2 linked regions of the Homo sapiens genome follow. The protein of the gene in region 1 interacts with the protein of each later gene in a biochemical or structural test. Each region holds a gene or a part of one and is shown on either strand. Other genes may lie near its edges.

Evidence for each region. Proteins that work in one complex are often made in the same cells at the same time.
Region 2: the proteins of RUNX1 (region 1) and ELF2 form a complex in vitro, tested with the Homo sapiens proteins (2 studies listed by BioGRID and IntAct).

What each region holds. Positions count from the first base shown.
Region 1 is NC_000021.9:35,046,290-35,053,688, reverse strand, and holds the start of RUNX1 (runt-related transcription factor 1), read left to right. Parts: upstream 1-4,386; 5' UTR 4,387-4,521; exon of another isoform or gene 4,522-4,730; 5' UTR 4,731-4,789; coding exon 4,790-4,847; intron 4,848-7,399.
Region 2 is NC_000004.12:139,174,212-139,182,229, forward strand, and holds the start of ELF2 (ETS-related transcription factor Elf-2), read right to left. Parts: upstream 3,008-8,018; 5' UTR 2,756-3,007; intron 2,356-2,755; exon of another isoform or gene 2,294-2,355; intron 2,138-2,293; exon of another isoform or gene 1,944-2,137; intron 1-1,943. UniProt on the Homo sapiens protein: Isoform 1 transcriptionally activates the LYN and BLK promoters and acts synergistically with RUNX1 to transactivate the BLK promoter. Isoform 2 may function in repression of RUNX1-mediated transactivation.

The sequences.
Region 1 (7,399 bases):
GGAGGGCATGACCTCGGCAAGGCAGTGGCTGGAGAGCGGGGCCAGGCAACCCTCTGGGAGGGGGACAGCCCATGGCAGGACTGCAAGGCCACCTGCGACGCTGCCTGCCACGTGGACACGTGCTGTGTGTCTGGAAGAACTCACAGGATTAATGTGTTTCCAAACTGCAGACTAGGTGAAAACTGAGAGTCTGGTGCCCCCAGAGGAAAAAGCCTTCTGTTTATATACACATGGCCACCAGCTAGGCAGATGGAGCACAGGGAGAGCCTCCCTACATTGTGTGTCAAACCTCAGACTGTAAACTTGACCCAAACACGGCACTTGAGATGAGAGGTCCGAGTGACAATCCAAGAAAATGCTACCTTAGAGGACGTGGGCCTTGCCTCTTGTGGGTTTCTGCTGTCTAGAAACATCCAGGGCTTACAAAATTATGTCAGAGCAACAAAGTAGAAAAGTTTCAGAAAGCTCAAAGGAAGAAAAAGACATCTCAAAGAATGCAAACACCATGTTATTATTTCTCTACTAAATTCCAATAGATGCAAGGCTTTCCTCAGCAATGTTTCTCAAACTTTAATGTGTATAGAATCACCCGAGGAACTGTAAAAATACAGATTCTCATTCAGTAGGCCTGGGATACAGCCCGCAATGCAGAGTCTCAACAAGTTCCTGGGTGCCATCGACACTGCTCACCTGCAGTCTGCAAGCAGAGGAGGAAGCAGTTGAAACTCTTTCATTTGAAATAATTCTCCCTAGCTGCTCTTCATATCATTACATAACATTCAAGTGGCAGGTTGGTTTCAATGTCTGCCTTTTTTCTTTCTTTTTTCCTTTTGAAATCATATTTCCCCAACAATACCTCTTCATCTAGGAAAGGTTAAGAAGTAAATACTGAGGCCAGGCGCGGTGGCTCCCGCCTGTAATCCCAGCACTTTGGGAGGCCGAGGTGGGTGGATCACGAGGTCAGAAGATCAAGACCATCCTGGCTAACACGGTGAAACCCCGTCTCTACTAAAGATACAAAAAATTAGCCGGGCGTGGTGACGAGCACCTGTAGTCCCAGCTACTCGGGAGGCTGAGGCAGGAGAATGGCGTGAACCTGGGAGGCGGAGCTTGCAGTGAGCTGAGATCGCACCACTGCACTCCAGCCTGGGCGACAGAGCAAGACTGTGTCTCAAAAAAAATAAAGTCTTGGGTAGCTTAAATTTGAATTGCACCTTTATCTAAAGAAGTGAGAGGCCTGTGCGGAAGAGAGATGTGTCCTGTGTGGGCACCATCATGAGTGTCCAGGAAAGAACATCTTTAATAGCTGGGCTTCTAGGGCTCCCTAGCTGTCTCAAACCATTGGATTTGCCAAAAGCAGGTTATAGTCATCCCATGAAGCTTTGATGTCTACGTCCCAATTTAAAAATCATCCCTGACCTCACTGTCAGCATAGCATGGAAGTTTCTGGATAGGACATCTGTTAGAAAACAGATTTAGAAAATAAGGAAAATCCACGCTACATAGAGAAAATTCAGTAGCATTGTCCTCCTGGGATTTTAGACTCCATCCAATTTGGGTGGTCCATCTCTGCCTCCATTTTCTGGCCAGAGAATCTACTTTATAATAGACATGTGGAGTTCAGAGATAGCATGCGGCAATCATGTAATGAATATCCCTAACAGAGGGTGCTTTGATTGGATTGGACTGCACACAGAAGTCTATACATTAATTACAGGGTTATGCAGGTAAACATCTGTCAACCCTTTCTAGTATTTTCATAGGGCCATTAAAAAAGACACCTGAGCATTTTCTCCCCACCCCGCCCCCCCACCCATGGTGGCATTTAGAAGCTGCAGCCAATATGAGCGAGAATGAAAACTGTCATCCAATTCCTTGGCAAAGCCACAGTCCACTGCAGACTCTTGGGTACAATCCCCAAGCCAGAAACCCAGGGTCTGAGTCACTTGCAGGAACTAGGACAGAGGGTGTGGGTCAATACACAAACTTAAAGAGTCCTAAACCGTTCTAGTTAAGTTAGGATTAAGTATTTCTCCAGGCGGTTCATTGATGACAGACGTGCCCTTTTGTCTTGGGCTCCTAGGGAAGTGGTAAGGCCAAGTTCACCAGCAGCTGGCTGAGGCTTTACTTATTGTCATGACCTGGAGGGTGCCCAGAAAAGCTCCAACTGTTGCCTCACCAAGCTGCGAAGTTATGCTGCGGCTGCCGTGGCTGTTAACCCCGCCCAGGAAGGCCGTGCAGGGCCAGCGTGCAGGCCTTTGTATTCTGCCCCCTGGTGCCCTGTTGAAACCTCAGTCCCGAAGATGACAGCGTATAGTGAGGCTTCAACGAGCCCCAGCCTTAGAGTGTCTTTACACTCTAACCTGTCCTACAAAGACCCCACTGGAAGAAATAGATATCTGGCTAGAGCTAGGCCCAAAGAGAAAAGTTGAGAATTCAGGCCGTTCACTGCCTCATCCAAACCCTTCTCCTAAGCATCTGGACACCTAAGGCTAAAAGCATCTGGGGAGTTTCTAAAATTAAATCTCCCAAGGATATTCTGTATGGCCCCTTGAATTGCTAAGTCATTATTAAGTGTGAGTCGACTCTGCAGTGGCAGCTGCACATTACAGCCCTCGGCTCTTAGGGCCCTTCCAGGGAATATTAAGTGTGGGAGAGAAAAATGAACCTGGTTTGGGGTTCAACTCAGGCTTGACTTTATTAGGGAGGGTAACAACACAGGCCCATTATGTTCATTATGTTCACAGGGGATTTGCACTGAGAAGCAATATGAAACACGCATCACATTTAAAGATTCACGAGCCTCATAAAAGAGATGTAGCACTATTATTCTTTTTTAGATGTTAGCAGTGTCAACATGTGGCCAGCTAACTTCTCACAAGTGTAAGAGAAAGCGGTCTGTTGAGTTTCAATTCCTGCTTTAGTCAAAACAGGAGTAAGTAAAAATTGTGTCTGTTCCTTTTGAAAGACTTGTGCCATGGAAGCTACTATCGTTGTGGGTCTTTGTGTGTGTGAAATTAAGTGGATGAGGGAAAACCGAGGGAGTGTTGTGGGAGTTCAGCCTTTCTGAAGTGCCTGTGCTGGCTACTGCAGCTTAGAATCCAGGACTGGCATTTACAACCCATCATCACACAGGTTCTCTTGACCCTATGTGTCGAAATTTCACGTGCGCAGAGTGCTATGGCGGATGTAGGCAGAGCAGAGCCAAATGAATAAGGTAGTAAATCAGGAAAATAAGCCTTTCTTCATCTTGGAACTACAAAACAAAATGACGTTTTAGTTGTCAGCAGGTAAAGCCAGTGGGGCCGGAAAATGAAATACGTGTGACCACAGTGGTTTGCCCACTTACAAAATTATCCTGTTTTTAGCATCTTCAAACAGGCATGTCTTTCTAAGGTAGAGGACGCGCTATATAATATTCATTAGTCAGCCCCAGGAGAAGTGTCTCCTCCTGGTTCCCCTTCTATTGTGGCATCCTCATGTGCTCAAAGTGTAGTTTTACCTACAGGTGTAAATTAGCCTATTGATTTGAATTGAACTAGAGAAAGGCAATACAGGGAGCTTTCCCAAGTGACAATACAAATAAACATCTGCAGAGTAACCACTGCTTTGTCCCAAATACAGAAATTCTCTCTGCTTTGTTTTCCTTTAGCTTCCTAATTTGTGTGTGTGTGTGTGTGTGTGTGTGTGTGTGTGTGTGTGTTAAGACTGTACTATGATTTTATCTCTTTACTGAAAGAGATACATACTAAAGTTGTCCATTTAGGGGGAATAAAACCACATAATTTTGGTTTCATTAAAACAGTCCTTTTATTTCAAAAGTAAAATTCTTTCCCTTTCCCAGGCTTTAAAATACCTGTGAGTTGCCAGCCCGTTGTAGGGGTCAGACTCTCACCAAAACATTTCTTTTTATTTATTTTTCCCTTTTATAGTTTCACTTATGCCATGATAGACGTTACCAAGGACTTAACTCTCCCGGAGCTGATGCCTAGCATTTTAAATGATGGGATCCACATCCTGTCGGAGCAGCGGCTTGATGCCAGCGTTGAATTACTATTGAATAAGCAGCAATGAAATCTTTATCAAAATAATCAGTAGTTCCAAAAACCACAAATAACAACAGGAGCCGAGTTGTACTAAATCAGCAAAGACCATTGAGATATAATAAGTGACTGAGTCACTTTTTTCTACATCCCCCCCTCTTGCAAAGTCTACTCGGCTATTTTCTTGCACAGCCTGGGGGAGGGCAGGTGGAGGGAAGGAAGGGCATTGCTCAGAAAAGAAAAAAAAAAATTGACATCACTTAAGTCACATGATTGGCAAGAACCAATTGAGATGGGCTGTGGAAAGGGGAACAGTTAAATTTGTAATTTGGGTTGTGTGAAAACTTCTTTGGGCCTCATAAACAACCACAGAACCACAAGTTGGGTAGCCTGGCAGTGTCAGAAGTCTGAACCCAGCATAGTGGTCAGCAGGCAGGACGAATCACACTGAATGCAAACCACAGGGTTTCGCAGCGTGGTGAGCATCACCAACCCACAGCCAAGGCGGCGCTGGCTTTTTTTTTTTTTTTAATCTTTAACAATTTGAATATTTGTTTTTACAAAGGTGCATTTTTTAATAGGGCTTGGGGAGTCCCAGAGGTATCCAGCAGAGGGGAGAAGAAAGAGAGATGTAGGGCTAGAGGGGTGAGGCTGAAACAGTGACCTGTCTTGGTTTTCGCTCCGAAGGTAAAAGAAATCATTGAGTCCCCCGCCTTCAGAAGAGGGTGCATTTTCAGGAGGAAGCGATGGCTTCAGACAGCATATTTGAGTCATTTCCTTCGTACCCACAGTGCTTCATGAGAGGTGAGTACATGCTGGTCTTGTAATATCTACTTTTGCTCAGCTTTGCCTGTAATGAAATGGCAGCTTGTTTCACCTCGGTGCAGAGATGCCTCGGTGCCTGCCAGTTCCCTGTCTTGTTTGTGAGAGGAATTCAAACTGAGGCATATGATTACAAGTCTATTGGATTACTTACTAATCAGATGGAAGCTCTTCAGAAATGTTTTAATAAATACTTAGTTATGCTGTTGGAGTGTTCAGTCGGTGCGTGAGAACTTTGTCAAGTGCGAGTAAGTTGTGCTGGTCTTGTTTAAAGGCTTAGAGATTATGAAGCTTGCACGAAGCTCCCTGGGTTTTATTTTGCTGTCCCTTGCCCGGAATGCCTGTGTCTGAGTTATCCTTAACTCGGCATGCTGTGTGGCCCAGAATGCAGCCTGCCCTGGGGCTTAGCAGGCACATGCACAGAGCCAGCCAGGAGGGCTGGTGCCAGTGTGGGGCAGGAGGCGGAGGCTCTCAGATAGCCTTGCACCAGCCTGGGGACTTCAGGGCCAAAGTGGCAAGGCAGCTGTCTCTATAAGGCAGAGAGTACAGGAGACTGACAGACTTGGTTAGGTTAAAATCATCAGCATGGGGCTGTGCTGTGTTTTTCCTTGTAGCCTCAATGCAAAGAGACAACCAGCATCTTTCAAGAGAGAAAGGAAGCAAATTGTGGCATACCGAGGTCTCTCTGGAAAAGGGCAATAGAGAAGTTTCCCGAGTTAAGCATTCTCGCAGCTTAAGTCGTTAGATTACAGGCTTATGAATAGGAACAGCCAGGGTGGAAAACCTGTCTCCATTTTTGAAACCAGCCTCTTGAAATGGACAAAGCTGTGGTTGAGCTGTGAGTGTGTGAGTATGTGTGTGCATGTGCGTCTTGTGTATCTTTCGTGGTAAAAGAGGGCTGTGCTTAAACAAACAAAAATAATAACATAAAATGTCTCAAAGGCATTGCCGTGTGCGTCGGGGCACGCACTCTGACCAGTGCCTGCAAAGTGTATCTTGATGGTTTGGCAAAGCTGAGATGGAGTGGGCTGGGATGGGAGAATAATTAATTTTCTGGCTACAAACTCTCTTGAGCACCCAAATTGTATCTGTGACTCATTATTTATTCATACAGCTAAGTGAGCAGGGGAATGCAGAGGGCTTGCCGGCCACTTTATCACAGCAAATGCTATTGTGAATGCACGGGGCTGTATGTTTCCGGGTCCCTGAAATTAAAAAACTTGATGAGAGAGAGAGAGAGAGAGAGAGAGAGAGAGAGAGAGTGTGTGTGTGTGTGTGTGTGTGTGTGTGTGTGTGTGTGTGTGTGTGTTGGAGATGGCAAGAGAGAAGTTAAAGAGAAAGAGAAGAAAACAAGTCATTAACCAAGCTCAAGTTTCAAATTAAAGAGTTTTCAAGTGCTTCTTTACTGGCAGCAGAGGGAATTTTAGTGAAGTTGAATCATGCAGACGTGCGTTAGTCACTAGTCTTGCAGCGTCGTTTGGTTGGTAACACAGAGACACCGGCCACTGGTGAAAAGCTGCAAACGGCTCCCTGGCTGCATTTCCTCTGGGCTGCTAACAAGCAGAGGAAGCAATATTTGTATAGAATAACAGAAAAAAAAGATCTTCCTGGCTTTACTCTGCTTTCAGTACCCCCTCAGAACGTGTATTGTTTCCTATTTTATCAACTCAGGAAGGCAGATTCAGGAAATTTTTAAGCATTCCATTGAGCAATAGGTTGGGTTTCAGTGTGCAGTGCTGGCCCCTGGGGCTCTCCTTACTGGCCAACGGCAAAGATGGTGAGGGACACGCTGAGCTATGCAGACATCAGGAAATAGCAGGAGTCTGGCTATCTCCCGGACAAGCCCAGGGCTCCTGTGCCCGATGGACACTCAGCTGACCTGCGCTAGGTTAGGAACAAGGGTCGGTTAGCTTTCACGGAGGCAGTGTAGGGAGGGCCTGAGCTCGCACCAAGACTCAAAAGGGATCATCTGGAAAGGTTTTTCCACTCCTTCCTTTCAGTGAAAGGAACTCAGGGTTCTTTAGAATCTCTAATTTGGTAATATAATATTGAGATTTGATGTCAGAGGGCCAAGTGAAATCTTGGCAATTTCCTGGTTAATTTCATCCAAGTGATCCATCAACATAAAGGTTTAAATTGTCCAGGTTAACTGTCCACATCATTCACCCAAGCCGGAGAGGTAGCAAAATATCATTTCTTTTGATACCGTTTGGTCATCATCTTAGAGCTTGATGCTAGAAGAATCACCATCCCTGCCAACAAATGGCTCTCCCCCAGAGTTCTCAGCCTGTTGCCATAGCTGGGCCACTCGCAGTGGTCAATGCGGTCACTTCTGGCTGCCTATAATTTACAGCGTGTGTTCCCTCCCCAACGGCAACTGTGAGCCGAAAGGGAAGACAGCATCTTTGTTTTCTTCCTGGGATGGTACTTTATCAGTCCATGCAATTCTCACAGAAGGAAACCTGTAACTCATTTTTAGCCAGATACCCATGTGGAAATTGGGGGGAAAGAGAGGAGTGAAGCCAAGCAAACCA
Region 2 (8,018 bases), on another chromosome or scaffold:
AAAAAAAAAAAGAAAGAAAGAAAATAGATTTTAAAAAAAAAAGAAATGAAGTACTGACACATATTACAACATGGATATACTTTGAAAGCATTATGCTAAACGAAAGAAGCCAGTCACAAAAGACCGCATTTATGGTTTCATTTACATAAAATGTCCACAACAGTCTAATCTATAATGATAGAAAGTCGATCAGTGGTTGCATAGGACTGGGAGTGCTGAGGGAAAATGAAAAGCGACTGTTAATGGATATGGGGCTCTTTTGGGGGATGATTAAAATGCTGTAAAATTGAGTATAGTGATGGCTGCACAACTCTGAATATACAGTCGGCCCTCCATATCCATGAGTTCTGAATACATGGATTCAATCAATGAGGTACAGAAACTACTCAAAAAAAAATTATGTCTGTAAATGAACATGTACAGACTTTTTTCTGGTCATTATTCCCTAAACAATACACAGTATAACAACTATTTACATAGCATCCACATTGTATTAGGTAGTATGAGTGATGTGGAGATGATTTAAAGCATACAAGAGAATATGCAGAGTTTATATGCAAATACTATGTCAGTTTTATTCATTTTTCCTAGGAGACAGGATTTTGCTCTGTCACCCAGGTTGGTGTCCAAACTCTGGCCTCAAGAGATCCTCCCACCTCAGCCTCCTGAATAACTGGGATTACAGGCACAAGCCACTGCACCCAGCAACTATGCCATTTTATTTTAGGGACCTGAGCATCCATAGATTCTGGTGTCTGAGGAAGGCCCTAGAACAAATCCCCAACAGATACCGATGGACAATTGTAGTAAAAACCACTGAATTGTTCACCTGCAAAATGGAGTAATTTTTTAAAAAATTAATAAACCCACCAAACTGTACACTTTAAACTGAACTGACTAGTATGTGAATTATATCATCGTGAAGCTGTTACTCCTCCAAAAATGGTATACAACATGAGCAGGTAAAGCCACTAACATTAGCAGACCCTACAGGCCACAGGTACCAATCTGTTTACTTAGGACAGAAAAATCCCAAAGTTACAAATTCTTTCCAACCATACTCAAGCTGACTATTTTGTAAATGAGTATTTATGTCTGAAATGAAAGGCAATGATAAATCCAATGAGTTAAATCACTAAACTTAAAAATAGGTTGACATAAATATTCAAACTTCAAATGCCCAGGATATTCCAATTTTCTATTTCATGTGTTTAACTACTAGATATCGTCTCAATAATATTTACATGAATGTACTCTGTAAACTGTAATGCTCTATAAAAAGTTTTATTATTCCTAAATTCCCTTAAATGTAATTTAATGGTTTCCAGTCCTATATAAGTCATTCTACCTTTTGAAGAAACTCTGAAACACAAATATCCAATCCTTTCTTAGTAAAGCATACATCCTTCCGTGATTCTGGCACCAAAGAAAGTGCATAATTTACTTCAGGATAGAGAATCACAGATAAAAAGGAAAACAAATCTGATTATCAAACACACGATTACTATTCTCTCATCACCGGATTACAATTTAAACCATTAAGCTGAAGTAAATGTTCATGAACACAAGAAAGGGGGGAATTTTTAACAGTTTTACAATGACGTGTCCCCCTCTTCCTCATTTAATGAAGTACTAAACTTAAAGGCTATTCTGCAGCGAATCTGCCTCCTAGAAAGAGTCCATCCAGGATGCTGGCAGAGGGAAAAAGATTAGAAACTGTGCGATCTGGATTATTCTTGGTGTCACGGAATATTTTTTGAGTCCTTTATGGACATGGAATAAAAATGCCCAAATGGAGCAGAAGAGAGGGCTCGGCTACCCTGATCACAAAGCTCCTGGGGTAGAGTCAGCATCCAGCCCTGGCAGAGCCCTCCCTGTCCTCCTTCCGCGCCCCTAGACCATCCCGTCGCGCGGTCCCTGAGGACCAGCTTCGCGAGGATCCAGAAGGCGGTCACTGGACGTGCCTGTTACGAGCCCGTTTTTGTTTTGCTTAAGAAACAGATTCCGATCCGAGCAAAGCCTCCCTACCTCCCGGGGAATAGGGGGAGATGGCAGCACGGTGCCGGCGTGGAGAGCGAGAATAAAAGAACTGCCGAGTACAACCTGTCGTGCAAGCTAGCAGCGCCGGGAAGGAAAGGTAAGCGGCGGCGATAAGGCACGACAGGGAAGGAAACTGGTGTCCAGCGCCCCCCCCCGCCTGCCCGCCACCCAGAGCGGCCGGAGCCTCCCAGGTCCCGCCCCGAGCTCGCCGCCCAGCCCCGGCGCCGGCCGCAGACTCCCGCCCTACACAAACCCTCCCAGGACGCGCTTCCTCCGGAGCCGGACCCCCGCCCTGGCCTCCCCGCGGGATGAGGCGGGTCAGTTCAGTCCGCTTCTCGGCAGAGGTGACTCGCGCAGAGATGTAAACACGGAGAGACCAGCTGCGCTCGGCCCATCCCCCCCGCCGGGGTCTGTAACCTCTTCCCTCAGCCCTGCCCCGCGCCCCGCGCTCCCCGCGGGCAGGCGCGCAGCGCGCCTTCCCCTTTCTCCAAGTCCCGCTCCGCGACCGTTGCCTGGGGACACTCAGCCCCCTTCCCCCAGCCCCCGGCCGGTGTCACCGCCGCAGCCGCCGGAAAACCCCTCCGCAAACCCCGAAGCAAACAACACAAGCGCGGGGCGGGGGCGCGGAGGGAGGCGGCGGCAGTCGGGACAGCCAGGCTTTATCGCCGCGCCCTTCGCGCTCCCTCTCACCAGCCTCGGCTGCCCGCGCTCTTACCTGCTCTCCGCGACGCCTGGGAAGACCGCGGCGTCCTTTTCCCTCTCAGCAGGGCCGCGGACTAGCCGCCGCCGTTGGCCGAGCGTCCGGAGGGAGCCGGGGCCTCCCCAGCAGCCCGAGCCGCTCCACAGGGAGAGAAGGAGACAAAACAGAGGCTCGCCGCCCCGCGCAGCGACCCCCGCCCGCGCCGCCCCACCGACCCCCAACCGCCTAGGCGACGGCGGCGACACAGAGCTTGGCGCTGGGAGCAATGGTTGCCCCCGCCCCGCTCCGCTCCCGGCCCCCTCCCTCCACCCCCCGCCTCGGCTCCTCCCCCTCGGCCTCCTGCCGCCTCCACCAGGACACTGGAGTCCGCCTCCCCCTCCCCGCCAGCTCAGAGTGCTCCTCCCCTCCCCACGCGGCGGGGGGGCGGGGGCGGCACCGCCAGTCACCGCAGCGCCTGTCAAACGCGGGCCGGCTATTTATACCCCGCGGGGCCCCGCCGCCCTCGGGCCCCCACCAGCCCGCCGAACCTGCTTCTTTTGCTGTCTTGAATCCCGCCCTCTTCTCCTCGCCCAACTTCTCCCAAACCCGCCTTCCCAGGTAAAGACGCTCGTCACTTGTCCGGCTCCTTGCCCAGGGCTCCCCGATCTCGCTCTCCACTCCAGCCCCGGATTGGTGCAGGGGGCTCTGCCGCACGGGGCAGGCGTGTGAGGCCGATGGGGCCGCGCGTGCACCTGCAGCGCCCGCCGGCTTTCCCCCGCCGGCCGGGACCGCACGCACACACCCTCGCCACTCAGGGCCCCCGCAGGCCCCGCCGTCACCGCATCCCCAACTCAGGACTCTCGCCCTTCTCCGGAGACGGCCCCACAGTCGGGCAGTCTGACAGTTACAGGGGGGCGAGGTTTTGCAAAAACTCCTAGCCCGGTCTTTCCAGTTCCCACTCCTCAGCCTTGGCTTAGTGAAAGGTGGGGGTTCGGGCAGGAGCGCGACGCCGGCCCCGCCCCGGCCGGTGACGCACGTGGCGCACCGCCCCGCCAGCCTCGCGCCCCTCGGCGCCGCCAGCTCCTCCTCCCCGCTAGCAAAAGCCGGGCGTAGTACACCCGCGACCCCGCCCCATTCCCAGAAATTACCACCCGCCCAACAGCCCGGCCGCGCGGCGGTTGGTGCCGGCGTTTGCTGGCTGTCGGGTGGCTGGGCCCAGCGCGCAGCTGCGGAGCGCGGCGGGCGGCCCCTTGGAGCTGCCCGGGGAGCTGCGGGCACTCGCACCTAGCCATTGTCGCTCCTTGCGCGGTCCGCAACGGAGAAGTAACTCAAGTCTGAGTGTTGTTGGTGCGAGAATGAGAGAGTGTTCTGGTGTGGGAGTATTTTGGCCCAAGTGCCTGCGAATTCGAAAACGAAAACCCAGCAGTGGCTGCACGCTTCTGGTTTCCACACTTTCACACAAAGGGGAGCCTTCGAGCGGGGCACTCTCACGCGCCTTCAAGTGCACAAAAGCCAATGACACGGTGCCGTGGGTTGCCCTGTGTAGGAGCGTCTCTTTAATGGGCTTTGTAGGCACAGTTAATGCATACAAACGCCTCAGTCTATTTCTTCACCACCACCATTCCCCGCCGCGGCGTTTTCTGTATTTGTTTCTTTAACAAAGAGCACAGCCTGTCCGGTGCGCGCGGGGCTCCTTTTGCTCCCCTCCAGGGCTCCTGCAGCCTCGCCGCGATGGACCTGGCACCTGGCGCGGTATTCACCAGCTGATTTCTGGGCTCCAGCGTTACCCTTTTTACGGCTTCACAACCAGTCTGGAGCAAAGAAGAAACACTGAGGAATATAAGTGATAGCTGTTCTCTTGAAAGGGACGTGGGAACCGTGGAAATCACCCTAGAGTAAGGCTCAAATGTCAGAAAGCTGCAGGAGGCTCCAGATTTAAATCCCTGAAGAGCCTAAGAATGTAATGATCTCTTTCTTTTGTTAATACTGCTGTTGCCTCTATTTTCTTGGGGGTGAGTCTTCTCTTCCTTTCTTAAAAAGCAACTCTGGGCCGGGCGCAGTGGCTCACGCCTGTAATCCCAGCACTTTGGGAGGCCCTGGAGGGTGGATTGCCTGAGGTCAGGAGTTCGAGACCAGCCTGCCTAACATGGTGAAACCCCGTCTCCACTAAAAATACAAAAATTAGCTGGGCGTGGTGGCACACGCCTGTAGTCCCAGCTCCTCGGGAGGCAGGAGAATCGCTTGAACCCCGGAGGTAGAGGTTGCAGTGAGCCGAGATCGCAACACTACACTCCAGCCTGGGCGACAGAGCAAGACTCCTTCTCAAAAAAAAAAAAAAAAAAAAAAAAAGGCCGGGCGCGGTGGCTCACTCCTGTAATCCCAGCACTCTAGAAGGCCGAGGCGGGCGGATCACCTGAGGTCAGAAGTTCAAGACCATCCTGGCTAACACGGTGAAACCCCGTCTCTACTAAAAATACAAAAAATTAGCCGGGTGTGGTGGTGTGTGCCTGTAATTCCAGCTACTCGGGAGGCTGAGGCAGGAGAATCGCTTGAACCCGAGAGGCGGAGGTTGCAGTGAGCCCAGATCGCACCATTGCACTCTAGCCTGGGCAACGAGAGCGAAACTCCGTCTCAAAAAAAAGCAAGTCCGAGGGCTCTTATTCTTATTTAAGAAATTTTTACTCTTGAACACAGAGGAAACCTGGAGACCGTGACTGTTAATCAAAGATCCTCTTAACTCTTGACAAAGTTTTCTGGATTCCTGAGTTCTAAATCATGGGACTGTTGACACCCTTTTGAACTAAAGAATTTGTAACAATTTGGTAACATTCAAATCTTTAATACACAATAAACAGGATTCTGCAAACAGAGCACCCTTTCTAAGGGAGTCTTTTTATCTCACTTCTTGTAAATAACTTATCACTTATGGGAACCATTGCCCAATTTGATATTTGTAAGGAATTAATTAATAATCAATAATATTGCATCTTCATAACATAACATAGCATACTAAGGAGCCGGCAAAGACAAAGACTGATTCCTGTTGTTAGGGACAGATATCACCTGCCAAGTCACATAATTTCTGTTGTCAGCCACGTTGAGAAGAAATTCTCTCCCACTGCCGATTGGCAGTAAGCTGGAAAGTCCCAGGTGGATAACAGTGGTAGATAACATTATTGTTCCCAATTTTTCACTACTCCATGCATGCATGCCATTTGAAATACGGCTTTGTAGTTCCTCTCAGTAGAGATAGGATGTTTCTCCATCCTGTTCATGTTGAGCTTAGATCAGTCCATTTGCTTTTGGTCAAAGGAAGATAGGCAGAAGTGAGTGTGACAGTTCTGAGCCTGGCCTCAAGAGGTATTTCATGTTTCTCCTTCCCTCTCTGGCACTCTTGTTTTTCACAATGTGAAGAACATACCTGGCTAGTTTGCTGGTCAAAGAAATATGAAGCAGGTCTGAAGCCAGTCCCAGCTTGGGGTCAGCAACCTAGAGAATAAAGGATTGTTGTTTCAAGCCGTGTTTTGGAGTAATAGCGTTTTGGAGTAATAGTGTTTTGGAGTAGTTGGTTCCTGGAATTAGTGTTGTGATAGCTGACTGAAACAACAGCAGAAAGAGCAATCTGCTTCCTTCATATTGGCCTGCAAGGTGCCTAACTTGGTGTGTCTCAGGCAGCTCTTTGGCTATGGTTCTTAAACACATCCCTTATGGAGGCCAGCGGAGTAAGGAACCCAGAAATTTTACAGCAAGCTTGTCCAACCCAGGGCCTGCAGGCTGCATGCGGCCCTGGACCGCTTTGAATGCAGCCCAACACAAATTTGTAAACTTTCTTAAAATACTTTTTTGCGATTTTTTTTTTAAGCTCATCAGCTATCATTAGTGTTAGTGTATTTAATGTGTGGCCCAAGATAATAATTCTTCCAGTGTGGCCCTGGAAAGCCAAAAGATTGGACACCCCTGGTTTACAGTAAAGCATTCTAGAGAACAGGGGTCAGAAGGAAAAGTCTAGTGTGACCAGTAGTCCTAGTAGCAAGCTAATGATCATGGAATAGGAAATCTCTGTTGTAACTGGATTGCTTTTGCTGTTTTTTATGTTATATAGTTTTTTATGTTATATAGTTTATTTTTTAATTATTTTTATATTTTATTTAATTATTTTTATTATAGTTTATTTTTTAATTATACAATGATTCATTAATACATTCTCATCATCAATTTTCAAATAATTCAAAATAAACTTTTTAAAACCCAAGTTCACCTTCCCTCTCCATTTCCCTTCCCACTTCTCACTTACCCTTCACACTTACGCAGCCATCCCCTACCTCTACTTTTCCACAGATAACCATAAATGAAAATTTAGCCTTTAAGCTTCTAGGCCTTTTTCTGTGCATGTATATACATATACATATATTTATATACTAAATATAAATGATTATATGCATATTAGGTATAATGCTTTTATACTTCTTTTCTCTGTGTTATTTCTCCCTTTGTTTTCTTCAATATATAGGAAAGTGATTTTTTTTAAAATTATTTCATCCTTGGCTGGGTGCTGTGGCTACATCTGTAATCCCAGCACTTTGAGAGGCCAAGGTGGGAGGATCATTGAGCCCAGAAGTTCAAGACCAGCATGGGCAGGAGGATCACATAGTTTGAGACCCCATCTCTACAAAGAAAATAAAATAAAGTTAGCCAGGTGTGGTGGTATGGATATGTAGTCCCAGCTACTGGGGAGGCTGAGGCAGAAGGATCACATGAGCCCAGGAGTTTGAGGTTGCAGCGTGCTGTGCTCTCACCACCCCACTGCAGCCTGGGTGACAGAGTGAGATCCTGTCTCAAAAATAAATAAACAAAATAAAACAAATAAAATTTCATTCTGCCTTCAGTATAATAGACTAACCAAAGGAAGAGATTTTCCTGCTTTTATATCAGAATATTAAATGGTAGGATGACACTTTAGGGCTCAGTATGGGGGTGGCAGTGACAATCAACATGAGGAACAGAAGAGAAGACAAAATTCTGAGTAGTGGCCAGTAAGTCATTTCCCTCTCCCAACCTTTCAACTTCACATTCTCAGGCAAATCCTTGGAAGTACGAGTTATGTTTGATTAAATGAGGTAATTGTCCCTTATGACATTCCAAGTCCAAGAGAATATAGTGGAAGCTATGCTGCCTTTTCTGACCTAACTTCTGGAGTCACATACCATCACTTCTGTTGTATTCTCTTGGTCACACAGATTGATCCTAATTCAGTGTGGGAGAGTACTACACAAGGACATTCATACCAGGAGATGAGGAT